Regions from separate parts of the Homo sapiens genome. Here regions 1 and 3 are each linked to region 2. The links come from fine-mapping of genetic effects on gene expression. A gene starts in region 2. Each other region holds a variant in brackets. All regions are shown on one strand. Distances are between the middles of the regions.

Region 1 (6,297 bases), 350 kb after region 2:
CCTTTCCCCCACCGAACAGATTGTGATAGAAGGAGTGCTGGCTTTTATAGTATTATGACGGCCAGAATTATAAAAAGGCAATGGACCCAACTGAAGAGTGGACATTGCGTCGCCAGCTCCGTTGAGAATGGTGCTAGGAATTATCGTGGAAGAATAAAGAAAGGGCACATGCAACACGGAGCTGAGAGGAGGGAAAGAGAGAGGGGTGCATACCTGTCACTATTCCATGTTCTAGAAGGGGGAGCCAAAAGCAGTGGGAGAAAGAAATACCCGAATAAATAATACAGCTAACATTCCCAGAATTGAGGAAAGATGAAGGGCTTCAGACCGAAAGGCTGCAAAGAGGTGAGATAAGAAATAACCTACATTTTCATGTACCACAGTGAAACTGAAGAGTATCAAAGAAAAAGTTCCAGAAAGAGAAAGTTCCAGAAAGAAAAAATAGGTCTCCTACAATGAAACAGGAATTAGATTGATACCCGATTTCTCAGAAAATTATGTTGAAATAATTAATTGGGAGGCCATTAGATTGAGGACGCTCCCAGTGCCCTGAGTTCTTAGATAAGGTAACTGAAACCCAACTCAGCATGAATGGCTGGATCCTAACATGACTTCAAACTAGACACAATCATTAGATACCATGAAAACGCAGCTTCAAACTAAGGACTTTGAAGCTACTGCTTTAATTTAACCAATCAATTTTTTGTTTATTTGTTTGTTTGTTTGTTTGAGACAGAGTCTTGCTCTGTCACCCAGGCTGGAGTGCAGTGGCACGATCTTGGCTCACTGCAACCTCTGCCTCCCGGGTTCACGCCATTCTCCTGCCTCAGCCTCCTGAGTAGCTGGGACTACAGGCGCCCACCACCACACCCGGCTATTTTTTTTGTGTGTGTGTTTTTTGTAGAGACGGGGTTTCACTGTGTTAGCCAGGATGGTCTCGATCTCCTGACCTCGTGATCCGCCCGCCTCGACCTCCCAAAGTGCTGGGATTACAGGCATGAGCCCCCGCGCCGGGCCCAATTTTTTTTTATAAATTTTGCTTCCATGTGTACCTTGTAAATGTTTTCCGGGAGCCCTGAATGACTTGCAGTTTGGAGCTGCCCAATTCATGAATTGCTGTTTGCTAAAATAGACCCTAAAATTTTTTAATGTGTCTGTTTATCTTTTTAGCAGTTCAGGTGTCAGAAGGGAGACCTGGAAGAGTCTCCTCCTGGCCATAAAGACACCTGGCAGCAATGAAGAATCTGGTGTGGACGCCTGTGGAGCCTCTGTACTCACTGCTTTCTTGCTGCTGATGTGGAATCCCCACCAGTAGATCCCTCCTGGATGCTGTTGCAGGAAATCGGGAAGCTGGAGAGATGGAACGGGGTGAAGGAGAGTTTATTTAAGGTGTACACCGGCTCAGCAGACATGCGTCCTGAAAGTCTGAGCACCAGACAAAGAAGGCAGTTGCCTTTTTTTTTTTTTTTGAGACGGAGTCTCACTCTGTTGCCCAGGCTGGAGTGCAGTGGTGCGATCTTGGCTCACTGCAAGCCCTGCCTCCCGGGTTCACGCCATTCTCGTGCCTCAGCCTCCCGAGTAGCTGGGACTACAGGCGCCTGCCACCACGCCCAGCTAATTTTTTTGTATTTTTAGTAGAGACAGGGTTTCACTGTGTTAGCCAGGATGTTCTCGATCTCCTGACCTGGTGATCTGCCCGTCTTGGCCTCCCAAAGTGCTGGGATTACAGGCGTCAGCCACCGTGCCTGGCCTAATTTTTCTACTTCATGCAAGTTCCACAACTTTCATCCTAAGATCTCCAACTTTATTTGAGCATTAAAGAAAAAAAAAAATTCCAGGGCCAAGCACAGTGGCTCATGCCTGTAATCCCAGCACTTTGGGAGGCTGAGGTGGGCAGATCACGAGGTCAGGAGTTCAAGACCAGCCTGGCCAAGATGGTGAAACCCTGTCTCTACTAAAACTACAAAAATTAGCCAGGTGTGGTGGCAGGTGCCTGTAATCCCAGCTGCTCGGGAGGCTGAAGCAGGAGAATCGCTTGAACTCGGGGGGCGGAGGTTGCAGTGAGCCGAGATCGTGCCATTGCACTCCAGCCTGGGCGACAGAGTGATACTCAGTCTCAAAAAAAAAAAAAAAAATCCAGACTAGATCTAGCGTCAAACTGGATCTATCAGAAACTGAACTGGGCCTAGTAGGCATCTTCACATAGGTAAGGGTTTGGGAAGACAGAATAATGAGTTTATCTGAATCCACAGAGTCTGAGATTCCTCCACCTGAGAACCAGTACTTGTCTAGAGAAACTGGTGAACTTTACCAAAGACACCTTAGAATTAAGTGGTGGCCGCAGTGGGTAAGTGATGACCTAGACAAAGCTGTTCATCTGTGGTATCCACTGCAAAAGATGGGATCCAAAGCAACTAAGAGAAAATGGAATGCATTTTTTAATTCACATGTTGTTTTTGACACAGAGTCTCACTCTGTCACCCAGGCTGGAGTGCAGTAGTGTGATCTCGGCTCACTGCAACCTCCACCTCCTGGGTTCAAGTGATTCTCCTGCCTCAGCCTCCTGAGTAGCTGGGACTACAGGCATGCACCACCAAGCCCAGCTAATTTTTTGTATTTTTAGTAGAGATGGGTTTTCGCCATGTTGCCGGGCTGGTCTCGAACTCCTGAGCTCAAGTGATCCATCTGCCTCAGCCTCCCAAAGTGCTGGGATTACAGGCGAGAACCTCCATGCCC[A/G]GATGATTTTTTGATTGGCATGCACAGGCTGCTAAAAGACTAAATGAATCCCAAGTTGTCTCTCTAAAAGACTCCATAGAAAAAGGCAAATAGAAAACCAAAGCAGTTAATTGACAATGAAAAAGGGCATGTCTACTGACTCAGCACAGATGAGCCCTTCTCTCTTTCTCTCCATCTTGCTCTGCCAGATTGCTCTGAACTACTCACTTTTTTGCTCAGTAACTTTTATACCCCAGAGGCAAAAAGAAAGTTAGCCAAACTTTCATCGTGTTAGGCCTTTAGATCAACCAGGCCTTCCTTCTTTAACCACATTGACATCTTGATTAAAATCTGAGCTCAGAACAATAGTGAAAGGTTTCCCTGTCCCAGAAATTTGCTGATGATGTAGAATTATATCCTGGCCTATTCATGCTAACTCCAGGCATGGAAAATGCTTGCCAGTTCATCAGTAGGCGCCACCCTGAACTCAGTGATGGAGTTAAAAAGCATAAACTGGGCTGAGAAGCCTCTGATCTAGCCAACGTAGGCCCCAAATGTGCTACTCTGGCATAAAGATTATTTTGATCCAATTCTTTTGAGACCCTTTGTAAGAAAAATTTAATTCTATAAAGGAGATAGAAGTGGTGGCTCATGCCTATAATGCCAGCACTTTGGGAGGCTGAGGGAGGAGGGTTGCTTGAGCCCAGGAGTTCAAGACCAGCCTGGGTGACATAGTAAGAGTCGGTGTATTAGTCCCTTCTCTCATTGCTGTAAAGAACTATCTGAGTCTGGGTAATTTATACAGAAAAGAGGTTTAGGCTGGGTGTGGTGGCTCATGCCTTAATCACAGCACTTTGGGAGGCTGAGGCAGGTTGAGGTCAGGAGTTTGAGACCAGCCTGGCCAACATGGTGAAACCCCATCTCTACTAAAAATACAAAAATTAGCCAGGTATGGTGGCGTGCACCTGTAATCCCAGCTACTCAGCTGGCTAAGGCAGGACAATTGCTTCAGTCTGGGAGGTGGACGTTGTAGTGAGCTGAGATCGCGCCACTGCACTCCAGCCTGGGTGACACAGCAAGACTGTGTCTCAAAAAAAAAAAAGGCAAAAGAAAAGAGGACACATGGCTGGGGAGGCCTCAGGAAAGTTACAATCATGGCAGAAGGTGAAGAGGAAGGGGGCACGTCTTGCATGGCTGGAGCAGGAGGAAGAGACAGAAGGGGGAGGTGCCACACACTTTTAAACAACCAGATCTCATGAGAACTCACTATCCTGAGAACAGCAAGGGGTAAGTCTGCCCCCATGATCCAATCACCTCCCACCAGGCTCCTCCTCCAACACTGAGGATTACAATTTGACATGAGATTTGGGTGGGGACACAAATCCAAACCCTCTCACCCCATCTTTACAAAGAAATTTAACCAACAGTTTGAGGTTGCAGTGAGCTATGATCGCACCACTGCACTCCAGCCGGGTTGTAAAATAAGACTCTGTCTCAAAACAAAACAAAACAAAACAAAGTAAACAACAAAAAAAAAGAATGGAGAAAGCATTGATTTAAATCTACATCACAAAACTTACCTTTACTTAGCGTGCATTTCTGACCCCCATCTTGGCTTAATTAGCGCTTTGCTTGCTTTCTCTCTCTTTTTTCTTTTCTTTTCTTTCCTTTCCTTTTCCTTCCTTCCTTTCTTTCTCATTCCTTCCTTCTTCCCTTCCCTTTCCTTCCTTTCTTCCTTCCCTCCTTCCTCCTCTTTCCTTTTCCTTCCTTCCTTTTCTTTTTCTTTCTTTCTTTTTTCTTTCTTTCCTTCCTTCCTTCTTTCCTTGTTCTTGCTTTTTTCTTTCTTCTTTCCTTCCCTTCCCTTCCCTTCCCTCCCTTCCTTCCTTCTTTCTTTCCTTGTTCTTGCTTGCTTGCTTTTTTCTTTCTTTCCTTTCCTTCCCTTCCCTTCCCATCCCTTCCCCTTCCTTCCTTCCTTCCTTCTTTCTCCTTCTCTTTTTTTCTCTTCCTTTCTTTCTTTTCTCTTTCTCTTTCTTTTTTTCATTTCTTTCTTTTTTTCTCTTCTTCAAATGAAGATATTTAAGGCTGAAGTCTAAGTTCTGTGCCTTTGAGATGTAAATTTTCTACTCTGCTCAAACACCTGAGGGTTATCTCTTTGATATGCAAATTTTGGGAAGCCATCTTATGAGAAAAGAAAAAAAAAGAGCTATATGGAAATTGGGCAAATGAAAAACCTTAAGTCTTTCCCGCAAATATTAATAAAAGCTTTAATCATCTGGCAAGTAATTTTGACTTGTTCCATGTGCCAGAAACAAGATTTGAAGCCTATTGTTCTTGTATTAAACAGTGTGTTTTGTATTACTGTGCTTGGCATGTGGCTAAGATTTTAGAATGAAGCTGTAACACTCTAGTGTCTGAAGAGTGTGAAAAAAAAAAAGAAAGCTATATGATCTGCTTCTGTCTGTATGTTTATGTATGTCTATGTATACATGTACACGTGACATTTTCCTACTCTAGATTGCGTTGCCAAAATTAATTTATAAAAAAGTGGTATTTAATTGGCTTAAAGAAAAATATGAGCTTATATAAGTTGAGTTATCCTTAAACTCTTAGAAATATAGAAACTAACCCAAATGTTTTTTAAATTTCATGTCATCTGAGATTATAGTTGGTAAATAAATGCTATTTAAACTTTTCTGGTTTAATGAAATATTTAGAGTTGTCAGCATTAAATAAAACGCAGACACACAACTTTGGTTTTACCTAGGTTTATTAGGCAAAAACTTATGTTATCTCTGTTACAAGAGTTGCCACCAAGAAAAGCAATTTGATGATGTCTAGCCTTGTCTGCTGTTATGAAACATCTACTTAAAAGCAGCTTGCCGATTCTCTTTGGTAGCTTGCACTGTTAGAGTCAAGTTAAATTAAATGATGGTTATTCATCGACTATCTAGAAAGATATTTTTTAAACCTTATTTTTTTTGAATAACATAAAATACTGAAACTTTGATTGCTAAACATAAGCTTGTCTACTTTTGGCTTCTTATTATAGAAGTACTAAACATACTTGTCTCTGCCAGCAAACACATCCTGTGCCATATTGAAAAATTGTATGATAAAGAAACACACACTTCTAGAAATTATGACATGGTATATTCACAGATTTGCCAATCTGCAGAATGTTGGTATGTATGCAAAAAGTTGACAAGTGTTTACTTGCTAGTTTTCACTAGAAACCAAGGTTAATAGCTGGTGTGGTGGCTCATGCTTGTAATCCCAACACTTTGGGAGGCTGAGGTGGGAGGATCACTTGAGCCAAGAGTTCCAGACCAGCCCATCTCTACCAAAAATAAAAATTAGCTGGGCTGGGTGTGGTAGCTCACGCCTGTAATCATAGCACTTTGGGAGGCTGAGGTGGGTGGATCACGAGGTCAAGAGATTGAGACCATCCTGGCCAACATGGTGAAACCCCATCTCTACTAAAAATACAAAAATTAGCTGAGCATGGTGGTGGACACCTGTAGTCCCAGCTACTCGGGAGGCTGAGGCAGGGGAATCACTTGAACCCGGGAGGCGGAGGTTGCA
Region 2 (6,297 bases):
ATATGACTAGATGAAAACCTTTTCTGACTTAGGTTGTAACAAATCTTTTTTCATGATTGATGAGACATTTGCTTTCCTCTGAAATTTTATCCCCAAATATCCCTCCAAAAATAAGGATTTTCCAAACCAGCAATGCAGCTGTCCAGTCTTTTTATCATGCAACCTCTTGGGCCTTCTCCCACCCCCACCTGAGAGATGACAGGAAGCCCGAGGAGTGAGTGGAGTCTCTTTCCTCCTTTTTGATTCTGAGGTTTTGCATCTGAAGACGCCTCTGACTCACCCTGGATCCACGCTGACCTGGAGCGGACTAATTGTCTGAAAAGGGCTCAGGCCAGTTGCACGTGTGATATGTGCACGTCCCTCCATGTGTAGATACCTCAATACACATCTAGAATTGGGTGGAAACCTCTCATAAAAGGAGGCTCAAGCTGCACCGCTGGGCGGCAGGCAGGACAGCAACCTGAACACAGCCTCTGTTCTATTTCCCCTTCAGCGCCAGGGAGGGCAGGACAGAAACCTGGCGTTGGTGAGATTTTGTGGCTGATCCCACAGCTTCTTGGGCAGATCTGGGGCCTTCTGTGCCAGAGTTTGTGGAATCTCACACAGGCAAGAGTTTTAAGCCAGTAAATACAGGACATCGGCATCAGAGACTCAGAACTGGGCTCCTGGAAGAGGCACCACAGGATGGAAGCAGGAAGCCAAGTGCACGGCAGACCACGCCGCATCGCGTTCCCGGCAGGCCACTCTTTAAACCCGATCTGTTCTTTTCCAGGCCTTAGCTAAACCAGGCCACCTAAATACCTGTCATTATCTGTGATGATTTCGCATTAATTGGGGTTTTTGTCCCTTCTGTTCCTTTTCTTAAAGGCTGGCTTCTTAAACACTTCCAATGTGTCTGCTAGTTGCTCACTGTTATAGATTGAAGTTATGGGGCTTGGGGGAAAAACTGTATAAAAGCCTTAAGTGATGTAACATTTTAATAATTAATATGAAGGGCGGCTATAACCAGATACGCTGTTCTAACAATTCCAGACCTGCAGGAGCTCATTCTGACCGAACGTAGCCTTGGCTTTCAGGACAACATTTTTTGTCAGTGACTTACTATAATCACAATGTGGCTACGAATAGCTGTGTCAGGCAGAAGTTAAACATGGAAGTGAAAGAGAACAAGTGTTTTCCCTGATGTAATGGACAAGATGTGTTAAGAAATCTTGTTTTGGTATACACTTAGTTTTTTTAGAGACAGGGTTTTGCTCTGTTGCCCAGGCTGGAGTGCAGTGGCCTGATCACAGCTCACTGCAGTCTCAACCTCCTGGGCTCCAGTGATCCGCCAGCCTCAGCCTCCCACGTAGCTGGGACCACAGGCTCCCTGAGGTAATTTTTTTTTTTTTTGAGACAGAATTTCGCTCTTGTTGCCCAGGCTGCAGTGCAATGGTGCGATCTTGGCCAACTGCAACCTCCGCACCCCACCCCCCCCACCACCACCACCGGGTTCGAGCAATTCTCCTGCCTCAGACTCTCAAGTAGCTGGGATTACAGGCATGCACCATCACGCCAGGCTAATTTTGTATTTTTAGTAGAGACGGGGTTTCTCCATGTTGGTCAGGCTGGTCTTGAACCCTCGACCTCAGGTGATCCGCCCGCTTTGGCCTCCCAAAGTGCTGGGATTACAGGCGTGAGCTACTGCGCCTGGCCTTCCCCGGGGTAATTTTTAATTTTTTTTTTGTAGAAGGGGGTCTCGCTCTGTCGCCCAGGCTGGAGTGCAGTGGCGCCATCACGGCTCACTGCAACCTCGACCTCCTGGGCTCAAGTGATCCGCCAGCCTCAGCCTCCAGAATAGCTTGGCCCACAGGGGTGCGCCACCGCCTGGCTGATGTTTACAGTTTTTTTTTTATAGAGGGGGTCTTGCTATGTTGCCCAGGCTGGCCTCAAATGATCCTGCAGCCTCGGCTTCCCAAACTGTCAGGCTTACAGGCCTGAGCCACTGCGCCCAACCTAAACTTAATTTTTAACCAAATGAAAATACACAAAACAAACCTGGTTACTAGAGGCTGTCCTGCCTATGGAGTAGCCATTCTTTATTCCTTCAAAACAATGCACCTAATTACTAGAGAACACGCACGAAGGTTTGGCACTTCAGCGCCCGCGTATGGGAGTTCTGGCTGTACCCACAGACAGCAGAAGGCGGCTCCTCTGCAGGATGGCCGATTTACTGCTTTGGTCTGTCCCTTCCTCCTCTCGGAGGCGAGTCTCTCAGGCAGGACGGCTGAGGCACCGGCGCCCGCGATTTTCTTTGGCGAGAGTTCCAAGGCTACCGAAACCCTGCGCCCATCCCGCCCACGTGTCTTCACAAAAACCACGCGCGGGACAAGAGCTGCCGGGGACTGGGGCCCCCAGAGCCGCTCCGCACCCACCCTGCCCGGGGCCAGGCGCCCGCGCGCGGGGGAGCTCTTCGGGGTGCAGGACGCCCGCCACCCAGGCCAGGCCAGGCCGCGCTTCTCGATGGGGTGACGGAGCTGTCTCGCTCACGTAGAGACGGTGGCACGGCCCCGTGAGCGCACCGAAAGCGGAAACCGGATTGTCACCACAGGGAAACGCCGCGCCCGCCGCTGCAAGCCCGGAAGCCCCCACCCCGCCCGAGCTCACCTCGCCGCGGGGCCGCCATCTTACCCGCCCCGCCCGCCGGTCCGTCGCGATCCCGGCAGCCTCTCGGCCCGCGCGCTCGCGCTCCTTCGGCCATTTTCGCGTCTCCTGACGAAGGGGCCCGACCGCGCCGCGTTTCGGGAGCGGACGTCCGAGCCACGGCCGAGGCCCGATTAGTCCGTCCGGCACCGCTCGGGCACTTTCGGAAGGGAAGAGGTGGAGAACCGACGTTCGGGAGCATTCGGCCTCGGGGACATTCGGCTCGTCTCGGCTCGGCCTCGGGCTGACTCGGCTTCCGCCGGCGGCGGGAACGGGCGAAACCCGCGGCACTAAGCTCTCTCTGAGAGGCAGAATTGCGCCGGCCGCCGGCGAGAATCTGCCTAGAGCCGTCCAGCCCTGTCGGCCGGGGACGACAGCCGCCTCAGCCTGTCAGGACAGTGAGGAGAGCAGGGGCCGAGTCTCTCGGAAGCCCTCGTGAGGACTCGGACCTATTCGGACTGATTCGGCTTCCCACTTCGGGGAACTTCGACCCTCCTCGGTTCAGGACTCGGTCTCGGCTCGGCGGCTTCGTGCAGGTTCGGCTCCTACTCGGGCAGCCTCTGTTCGCCTCGGCTCCGCTCCGCGGGCGGACTCGGCTCGGCTCTGCTCGGCGGCTGGCTGCCTTTTCGGTCCCTATTCGGGCGGCGGCTTCGGGCGGCCTCGGCCCAGCTCGGGCGTCCTCTTCGGGCCCCGCTTCGGGCTCCGCGACCGGCGCTTCGGGCGGTCCCGGACGGCGCCTTCGGGAAGGCTCGGCGGAGTCCGGATGGAGGACTCGGACTCGGCGGCAAAGCAGCTGGGCCTGGCTGAGGCGGCGGCGGTGGCGGCCGCGGCCGCTGTGGCGGCGGCGGCCGCGGCCGCGGCAGGAGGCGAGGCGGAGGAGCCGGTGCTGAGCAGGGACGAGGACTCGGAGGAGGACGCAGACTCGGAGGCGGAGCGGGAGACGCCGCGGGTCACGGCAGTGGCGGTGATGGCGGCGGAGCCCGGGCACATGGACATGGGCGCCGAGGCCCTGCCCGGCCCCGACGAGGCCGCCGCTGCCGCAGCCTTCGCAGGCAAGTGCGCCCGCCGGCCTCTCGCCTCGTCCGGTTCCCGCGCGCCTACCCCGCGCGCCTGCCCCGCACAACTGTCCCAGGTGACCAGCCCGCCACACCTGTCCCTCACACCTGCTCCACGTGACCAGCCCGCTCCACCCGCCCTGCACACCTGCCCCTCACACCTGCTCCACGTGACCCGCCCGCCCCACCCGCCCTGCACACCTGCCCCACGTGACTAGCTCACCCCTCACATCTGCCTCTCACACCTGCCCCACCCGCCCCTCACACTTTCCCCACGTACCTGCTCCAGGTGACCAGCCTGCCCCACCTGCCACAAATACCTGCCTCGCACACCTGCTCGACGTTTCCAGCCTTCCCCACCTGCCCCACGTGATCGGCCTGCCCTACCTGCCCCGCACACCTGCCCCACATACCTGCCCCAGGTGACCAGCCTGCCCCACCTACCCCAAACACCTGCCCCGCACACCTGCCCCTGGTGACCTGCCTAGCCTCACCTGACCTGGCCCTGCCCTGCACACACCTGCCCCCTGCCCCCCTTTTCTTTGTGGCAGCCCCGCCTCCTACTGGTCCCCCCTGTGCAGCTCTGCCCCTGCCCTGCCTTCGTCCATCCTGGCTCCCCCCACCTGTCCTGGAGAAGCCCTGGGGTGGGTGGGCACCTGTGGTCACCAGGAACCCCCCACTTCCTGAGGGCCAGTTCAGGCATGACCTGAGCGCTGGGGAGCCAGGGGTGGGCAGCCTGCTGGAGGCCATGATGCCAGAGGTCAGCGTGGCTGTGTGGTGGCCCAGGGGGGCTGCGGAGCCACCTGTGCAGGCTCCCCTCCCAGTCCTCCCTCTTCCTCTTGCCTTTTTCCCTAAGGACCTGCTCCTCCTGCCCCGCTTCCTGTCGGGCTTCCTTTGGGGAGGCTGCTGTGGCTTTCCAGTCCACATTTTTATATAAGCTGCTTATAGTTTCTTGCCACACAGGTCAGTCTCCTTCTCAGGCTCCAAAACACTGGGAGCCCGTGGCAGAGCTCACAGATGCCCTACGGGGCTGGTGCCGTCCACCCACCTCCTGTGTCCCGCCCTTGTGTCCGTGGGGCATAGACTTCCCCACCCACTGGCTTCCTAACGCACTGTATTCTTCCCCATTGGAGTTCCCGAGTGTCCCCCAGGGACTCACAGCTCAGTGTTGAGACCCTTGGGAGGAGCTTCTTGTTGCGTTGTGAGGCACTTTTCCCCTACGGAGCTTTGCGGGTTGAGGAACTGGATCCCAGTCCTGGTGTGCTGGGTATGTCAGGGCATTGCGTGTGCTCTGGGTGCTTGTTCGGCCTGGGGGCTGGGTGGGGGCCAGCAGCGTCTGGGCTGCCCTTGGTCAGCTGAGTGGCCCTCGAAGGCAAAGGGGTCACTGCTGCTTGTTTGGTTGGTTAAGAAAAAAAAGTGAGGGAAGGCTTTGTGACTCTCAGGGGTTGGCGTCCGTCGCTAAACTCTGGTTTGACGTTGGGATTTGGAGCCATGAGGTTGATTTCAGGTTTTTGTCATTTTTGCACGTATTTTTCTGAATGCATAAAAGAAAAATGATGCTGTTCATCATGATGTCAGAGAAATGTGCTGACGTGTGTTTTCTTCTGAAAAATATGGTAGTTGTGTTTTGATGTGGTAAAAGCACTTTAATACTTTTTAAAAATTACGAACAGCTGACGTCAAGTGGTTTCCAGGTTTAAGTAACTCAGCAGGACACGCTGCCGCCTGAGGAGGCTTTGGGCGGCTGCTCCCAGGGCTGCCATGGGCCTGGCGTTGAGCACTCACTGTGGCCGCGCGCCGCATGCCGGGGCTTGTGGTGCTGAGAGGCGAGGATGAGGGAACCGTGCACCTGGTGTGGTCTGGTCGTGGAGACAGACAGCAAACATGCCTTTTTTTTTTTTTGAGACGGAGTTTCGCTCTTGTTGCCCAGGCTGGAGTGCAATGGTGTGATCTCAGCTCACCGCAACCTCCCGCCTCCCGGGTTCAAGTGATTCTCCTGCCTCAGCCTCCCGAGTAGCTGGGATTACAGGCATGTGCCACCACGCCCGGCTAATTTTGTATTTTTAGTAGAGATGGGGTTTCTCTATGTTGGTCAGGCTGGTCTCGAACTCCTGACCTCAGGTGATCCGCCCGCCTTGGCATCCCACAGTGCTGGGATTACAGGCGTGAGCCACCGCGCCCGGCTGCAAACAGGCATTTTTAGGGCAGTTTGGTGAGTGCTGGGTTAATGGTATGGTCAGGACTCATTCAACCAGTATCTTTTAAGCATCTGCTGTGTGCCAGAGATTGCCCTGGACACAGGACATTCTAGAACTCTGGGTGACAGAAGAGCCACTTGCTTGGCCTAGGAGCATCACAGGAAGACTTTGCAGAGGCAGAGAGGAGGGTGTGGGGGTGTTGGCGGCAGAAAGTGTTTCTCTAGAAACACTCCAGCATGTAGAGGCTGGAGCTGCAGGACCTATCTGGGATGACAGGGGCAGGAGGTGGGGTGCAGCTGACCTCTGTGGTAACTGCCCTGTGTGCAGATGCTGCTGAAGGGCCTGTCTGCATGCCAGGGGGC
Region 3 (6,288 bases), 270 kb after region 2:
GGTCTCACCGTGTTACCCAGGCTGGTTTCGAATTCCTGGGCTCGAGCGATCCTCCTGCCTCAGTTTCCCAAAGTGTTAGGATTTCAGGCGTGAGCCACTGCACCTGGCCAAAAAAAGGTGCATATGGATTGATGGAGCCAGAAAGACTCATTTCACTAATTAGGAAGGCGAGGTGAGAGGGATGCTGGCTGCAGCTTTACTTTTTTTTTGAGATGGAGTCTCGCTCTGTCGCCCAGGCTGGAGTGCAGTAGCATGATCTTGGCTCGCTACAACCTCTGCTTCCTGGGTTCAAGCAATTCTCCTGCCTCAGCCTCCTGAGTGGCTGGGACCACAGGTGCGCACCACCACACCCAGCTAATTTTTGTATTTTTTGTAGAGAAAGGGTTTCACCATGTTGGCCAGGCTGGTCTCGAGCTCCTGACCTCAGGTGAGCCACCACGTCTGGCCCTGTAGATGCTGGTTCTTGACCCCCATCCGTCTTGGGAAAGGCGTGCACCATGGCTTGCTGTGGGCCACGTCTCTCCTGGTGGGACCTCTCACTCTGGAAGCTCCTGCGGGTGAACCCTGGTCTCCTGTCTGGAGGCAGAAGGACGCTGTCTATGTGCTGGGAGGCCAGCTGGGGTTGGGGAGGACAGTGTGGGGCCTCAGTGTCAATTGGTCCAACCCTGTGTGCTGAGTCCCTGGTTGTTCAAACCCCTAGTGAGCTTCTAGTCCTCCTGAGGGGGTTTTGTGGTCAGGTAGGAAGCCCAGGGACCTTCCAGCTGGGCCTGCATTCCCCTAATCAGTGCCCCCAAGCCACCAGGGGTACCCAAGTCCCGAGGCTTCCTGGGGATCCTGGCAGGGCTGGGTTGCTTCCTGAGTGTCTCCCCCGAAAGCCTGATGTCTTGAGTGGACTTCAGGCCTCTCCAATTCCCTTACACCTCTAAGGTGATGCCTGGTAGTGGGTGTCAGCAGCCTGTCATTTTATTTTTATTTATTTACTTTTAGAGACAGTATCTTGATCCATTGCCCCAGGCTGGAGTACAGTGGTACCATTACAGCTCACTACAGCCTCAAACTCCTGGTTCCAGCAATCCTCCTGCCTCAGCCTCCCGAATAGCTGGGACTACAGGCATGTGCCACCATGCCTGGCTAATTTTTTCTATTTTTTGTAGAGATGGGGTTTTGCCATGTTGCCCAGGCTTGTCTCGAACTCCTGGGCTCAAGCAATCCTCCTGCCTCGGCCTCCCAACGTGCTACGGGATAACAGGTGTGAGCTACCGCACCTGCAGTCTCAAGCAATCCTCCTGCCTTGGTGTCCCCACGTGCTGGGATGACAGGTGTGACCCACTGCACCTGCAGTCGCCATTTTAATTGTGACTTGGGAGTTTGCATTTACATTAACATAGATCCTGCTAAAGAGACCTCCAGAAAGGCTGTGTCAGTGACAAAGCTACCCACAGTGTGTGAAACTATATGTTCCATCTTGAGCTGATGGGCAAAGTCTTTTCATTTTTTAAAAGTGCCTTTAAAAAACTACTGGTGAGGGGCTGGGCGAGGTGGCTCACGCCTGTCATCTCAGCACTTTGGGAGGCCGAGGCACGAGGATCATGAGGTCAAGAGATTGAGAGTATCCTGGCTAACACGGTGAAACCCCATCTCTACTAAAAAAAAATACAAAAAATTAGCCGGGCGTGGTGGCGGGCACCTGTAGTCCCAGCTACTGGGGAGGCTGAGGCAGAATGGTGTGAACCCGGGAGGCAGAGCCTGCAGTGAGCTGAGATCGCGCCACTGCACTCCAGCCTGGGCGACAGAGTGAGACTCCGTCTCAAAAAAAACAAAACAAACAAACAAACAAAAAACAAAAAACAAAAAACTATTGGTGAAGTCTAGCATCTTTCCAGATATTTACTGATCATTGTATTTTTTTTCCTATGAATTGACTGTTCATATTATCGGAGCATTTTTGTTAGGTTATCGTAGCATGAAGGCCAGGCTTCTTTCTTGCTTGCTTTTTTTTTTTTTTAACTGTCAGTTTCTTATAATCATGGTATGTTTTACTTTGCATCATATTTGTAACATTTATTGTACAGCTCTTTGTTTTTCCTGGAGTTTCTTTATCTTTTGTTGTTTTTGATTTTGTCTGCCTTCCAATCCATCTCCTGGGGTTTCTACTTGCCTCTTTTTCTTGAATGTCTTTATCAATTGTATCCAGCCTCTCTGTGGTACATCGTGTATTGCACGGAGTCCCTTTTCTTCCAGAGATCTTCCTTGGGAGCCTTTTCCTCCCGCGCGTCCCGTCTCTCCACGCCGCCTTTTGCTCCCGCGCGTCCCGTCTCTCCACGCCGCCTTTTCCTCCCGCGCGTCCCGTCGCTCCACGCCGCCTTTTCCTCCCGCGCGTCCCGTCTCTCCACGCCGCCTTTTCCTCCCGCGCGTCCCGTCTCTCCACGCCGCCTTTTCCTCCCGCGCGTCCCGTCTCTCCACGCCGCCTTTTCCTCCCGCGCGTCCCGTCTCTCCACGCCGCCTTTTCCTCCCGCGCGTCCCGTCTCTCCACGCCGCCTTTTCCTCCCGCGCGTCCCGTCTCCCCGCCGCCTTTTCCTCCCGCGCGTCCCGTCTCCGCGCCGCCTTTTCCTCCCGCGCGTCCCGTGTCCATGTCTCCTCCTTGTAACATCTGGAGAGATTTCCTTCACTTTGTGCCTTTTTCTCCATCGATTGATTTCTTTGTTTTACGTTTAACAATTAAAGTCTTAATTTCTAAGAGTGTTTTGTTTCCTCTTTATTTTTTATTCACAGCATCCCTTCCGTGTTTTTATGTTCTTGAGGATTTCAATTAGGTTTTCCTTCTCCCTGAGTTCTCATCTGTTCCCTAATTATCTCTTGTTTCCTAAAGGGTCCATTTTTGTTTTTTAATCGTTATTCTCCTCTTACTCCTCTGTGAGTAAATCTCTGTGGTTATTCATTCGTATTAAAGACCAAGGAACTGAATTGATTTTTCTTGATGGATGAGATGGGTCTGTATAATAGTAGCTACATCCATTGCCCACTCACACATTCTATCATTAACTCATTTAATCTGCACAGTAGCCCTATAGGGCAGAGCTTCTCTCATTGCCATTTTACAGAATAGATGACTGAGGACCAGAGAGGTTAAGAAATTATCTCCAGGACACACAGCCAGTGGGTGGCGGAACAGATAAAAACCACAAAGTCTGGCTCTAGAGCTTAGTTCTGTGCCTCTTTGCATGGGGAGGTCTCTCGGAAAACAGCGTGAAAAATCTACCTGGTTTCTCATGTTACACTAGAGCAAATTTTCTTTTTGACAGTATTCCTTTATGGTTCTATTTTTTCATGCCACTCCTCAAGATTAATAAATATGTTCAACTGTGGGCCAGGTGCAGTGGCTTATGCCTGAAATCCCAGCACTTTGGGAGGCTGAGGCAGGCAGATCACCTGAGGTCAGGAGTTCAAGACCAGACTGGCCAACATGAAGAAACCCCGTCTCTACTAGCCAGGCGTGGTGGTGTGAGCCTGTAGTCCCAGCTACTCGGGAGGCTGAGGCACAAGAATCACTTGAACCCAGGAGGCAGAGGTTGCAGTGAACTGAAATCGCACCATTGCGCTCCAGCCTGGGTGACAGAGTGAGGCTCCATCTCAAATGTGTGTGTGTGTGTGTGTGTGTGTGTGTGTGTGTGTG[A/TGTGTGTGA]GTATTCAACTGTGATTTCCTTTAGATGTTTATGATTTCAAAATATTAAACATTTGGCTGAGTGCAGTGGCTCATGCTTGTAATCCCAGCATTTTGGGAGGCCAAGGTAGGAGGATTACTTGAGGCTGGGAGTTCAAGACCAGCCTGGGCAATGTAGTGAGACCCACTGCCCCCAAACCCCCCACCGCACGTCTCTACAAAAAATAGAAAATTAGTTGGGCGTGGTGGTTTGGGCCTGTAGTCCTAGCTACTTGGGAGGCTGAGGTAGGAGGATCGCTGGAGCCTGGGAGGTGGAGGCTATAGTGAGCCATAATCTCACCATTGCACTCCAGCCCGAGTGACAGAGATCCTGTCACAAAAACCCTTAAACCTTCAAATCCCTGACTTGTAAGGAATTTGTTTTGCTGCAAGGGGCAGAGGAAGGAAGGCTGTTTGTTTGTTTTCCAAATGGCACCCAGTTGTCCCCAAACCATTGATTGACTAACCATCCCCATCACCATTCTTAACTTGAAATGCCTTCTTCGTCATACACCAAATTCCATTCTTTGCTTATATATTGTCTTCTCATGGATTCTGACAATTCCAGTACCAGCCCCTTGCTGTGCTGGGTATTATTGCTTTATGCCTTGCTGTAGGGTGGGGCTAGCTGCTGTCCATCACTCTTCTTTTCTACTTTTTTAATGGTTATTTACATATGTTTATTCTTTCAGATGAATGTCAGAATCATTTTGTCAAATTGCCAAAAATTCTGTGAGACTAGCTGGGTGTGGTGGCTCACGCCTGTAATCCCAGCACTTTGGGAGGCCGAGGTGGGCGGATCATGAGGTCAGGAGTTCGAGACCAGCCTGGCCAGCATGGTGAAACCCCGTCTTTACTAAATATACAAAAATTAGCCAGGCGTGGTGGCGCGCACCTGTAATCCCAGCTACTCAGGAGGCTGAGGCAGGAGAATCACTTAAACCCGGAAGGTGGAGGTTGTAGTGAGCCAAGATCATGCCATTGCACTCCAGCCTGGGTGACAGAGCAAGACTCTGTCTGAAAAAAAAAAAAAAAATTCTGTGGGACTTGGCTTAAGATTGTATAAGTAAAATGATACATTATTTCCAAGAAAATCACCATAACAAACGACCACAGCTTAGTGGCTTCAAACAATCAAATTATTACCTCCCAGTTCTGCAGGCCACAAGTCCTAGATGAGTCCCACTGGGTGAAAACTAAGGGGTTAGCAGGGCTGGGCTCCTTCTGGAGGCTCCAGGGGATAATTCACTTTCAGCTTCTCCTTGGTGCACGGCTGCTCCTCCCCCTGCAGAGCTTGCAGCGTGGGGCTGAGTCCTTCTGAGTGAGTCCTGAGTCCTTCTGATTCCTTCTGAGTCAGGCCAGCTCCCAGCTGCTCCCTGTCCCCACAGAGGGACCCTTGTGATTACACCAGAAAAACCCAGATAACCCAAGATAATCTCCCCGTCTTAAAGTCAGCTGATTAGCAGCCTTAATACCATCTGCCTTGTGAGATAAAATTCCTTTGCCAGGTAAGAACGTGGTCACAGGCTCCAAGAATGAGCACGTGGACGTCTTTGCGGCCCATCGCTCTGACTACAAATACATCCTCCGTTTTCTTATGGGAGAACGAGGTTCTCCCTGCAAGTCTTTCATGCTCCTTGGTAGTTTTATAGTTTTCTTCATTTAGGCCCCACAGATGCCTTGTGAGTTTCAGTCTCGTTATGGTATAACTTGTGCTGGTGTCTGCGGGTGACCGATACTTTCTCATGCCATGTTTCCCCGCAGCTTTGCCGCACACGGAAAAGCCAGTTCTGCTGGATGCTCGTTTTGTATCCACTTGAGCACTCGATTGATTTATCCACCCAGGCTTTCAGTTGTTTTATTTTGATTTTCCAGGTACATAATCATGTTTTCTAAAAGAGTCATTTTTTTCTTTGCAAATGTATACTATTTATACTTCATATTTCTCTTGCTTATTTGCAAGGAATTCCAGAACCGTGTTAAATACCAGTTGTCGTGAGCTACAATAGGAATGCTTTTGGGATTTCACCACTGACCATGAGCCTGACTTTTGGTTTAAGATAGTTCATGTATTTCTCATATTATGGAAAGCAGGTGATTTTAAACACAAAATAACCCATCGTGCCGTTTCCACGGGGAGAAACCGAGGCCACTCGTAACAGACACTGTCTGGAGCGTGTGTTGGAGCCTGTGGCCTTGCCTGTGTGTGTGTGTGTGCGCCCACGTGCAGGTGCGGTTCGTCTGGGAGCCTGTGGCCTCCCCTGTGTGGGGGTGTGTGTGTGTGTGCGCGCGCCCACGTGTGGGTGCGGTTCATCTGGGAGCCTGTGGCCTCCCCTGTGTGTGTGTGGGTGTGTGTGCGCCCACGTGCAGGTGCGGTTCGTCTGGGAGCCTGTGGCCTCCCCTGTGTGGGGGTGTGTGTGTGTGTGCGCGCGCCCACGTGTGGGTGCGGTTCATCTGGGAGCCTGTGGCCTCCCCTGTGTGTGTGTGTGTGTGTGTGCGTGCCCACGTGCGGGTGCGGTTCATCTGGGTGTGAGCACCTGTGCCCCGCTCACCTGCAGGGCCTGCCCCGCCTGTTCTGTGTCTTTCCTACCCGCTTC

Alleles and levels. Positions count from the first base shown, and alleles are read on the strand shown. Sizes are in standard deviations (SD) of each study's normalised expression. Not every link is listed here.
For the expression in monocytes of the gene that starts at base 2,677 in region 2, allele A in region 3 goes with a higher level than allele TGTGTGTGA (moderate effect, 0.69 SD a copy in CEDAR).

The links. PIP is the estimated chance that this variant, and not a neighbour inherited with it, causes the effect.
Region 1: its variant is fine-mapped to the expression of TMEM80 in Th1/17 cells (Schmiedel 2018, PIP 0.95).
Region 3: its variant is fine-mapped to the expression of TMEM80 in monocytes (CEDAR, PIP 0.95).

The regions. Positions count from the first base shown.
Region 1 is chr11:339,300-345,596 of GRCh38, reverse strand. No RefSeq gene overlaps it. Among named protein-coding and RNA genes, the nearest start is that of IFITM3, 22 kb to the right of the region's middle. The variant A/G (reference allele first, on the strand shown) is at 2,737.
Region 2 is chr11:692,196-698,492 of GRCh38, reverse strand. TMEM80 (transmembrane protein 80) reads right to left here and starts at 2,677. Exons shown (of 5, transcript NM_001042463.3): 1 at 2,647-2,677. The coding sequence starts at 2,665. It overlaps DEAF1 (DEAF1 transcription factor), which reads left to right and starts at 3,271. Exons shown (of 12, transcript NM_021008.4): 1 at 3,271-3,734. The coding sequence starts at 3,446. RefSeq lists enhancers at 1,133-1,672, 2,213-2,752, 2,753-3,294, 3,295-3,834 and silencers at 2,280-2,699, 3,200-3,499, 3,510-3,629, 3,650-3,899.
Region 3 is chr11:421,271-427,558 of GRCh38, reverse strand. The region is part of intron 15 of ANO9 (anoctamin 9); the gene reads left to right. Among named protein-coding and RNA genes, the nearest start is that of SIGIRR, 9.4 kb to the right of the region's middle. RefSeq lists an enhancer at 5,828-6,288. The variant A/TGTGTGTGA (reference allele first, on the strand shown) is at 3,674.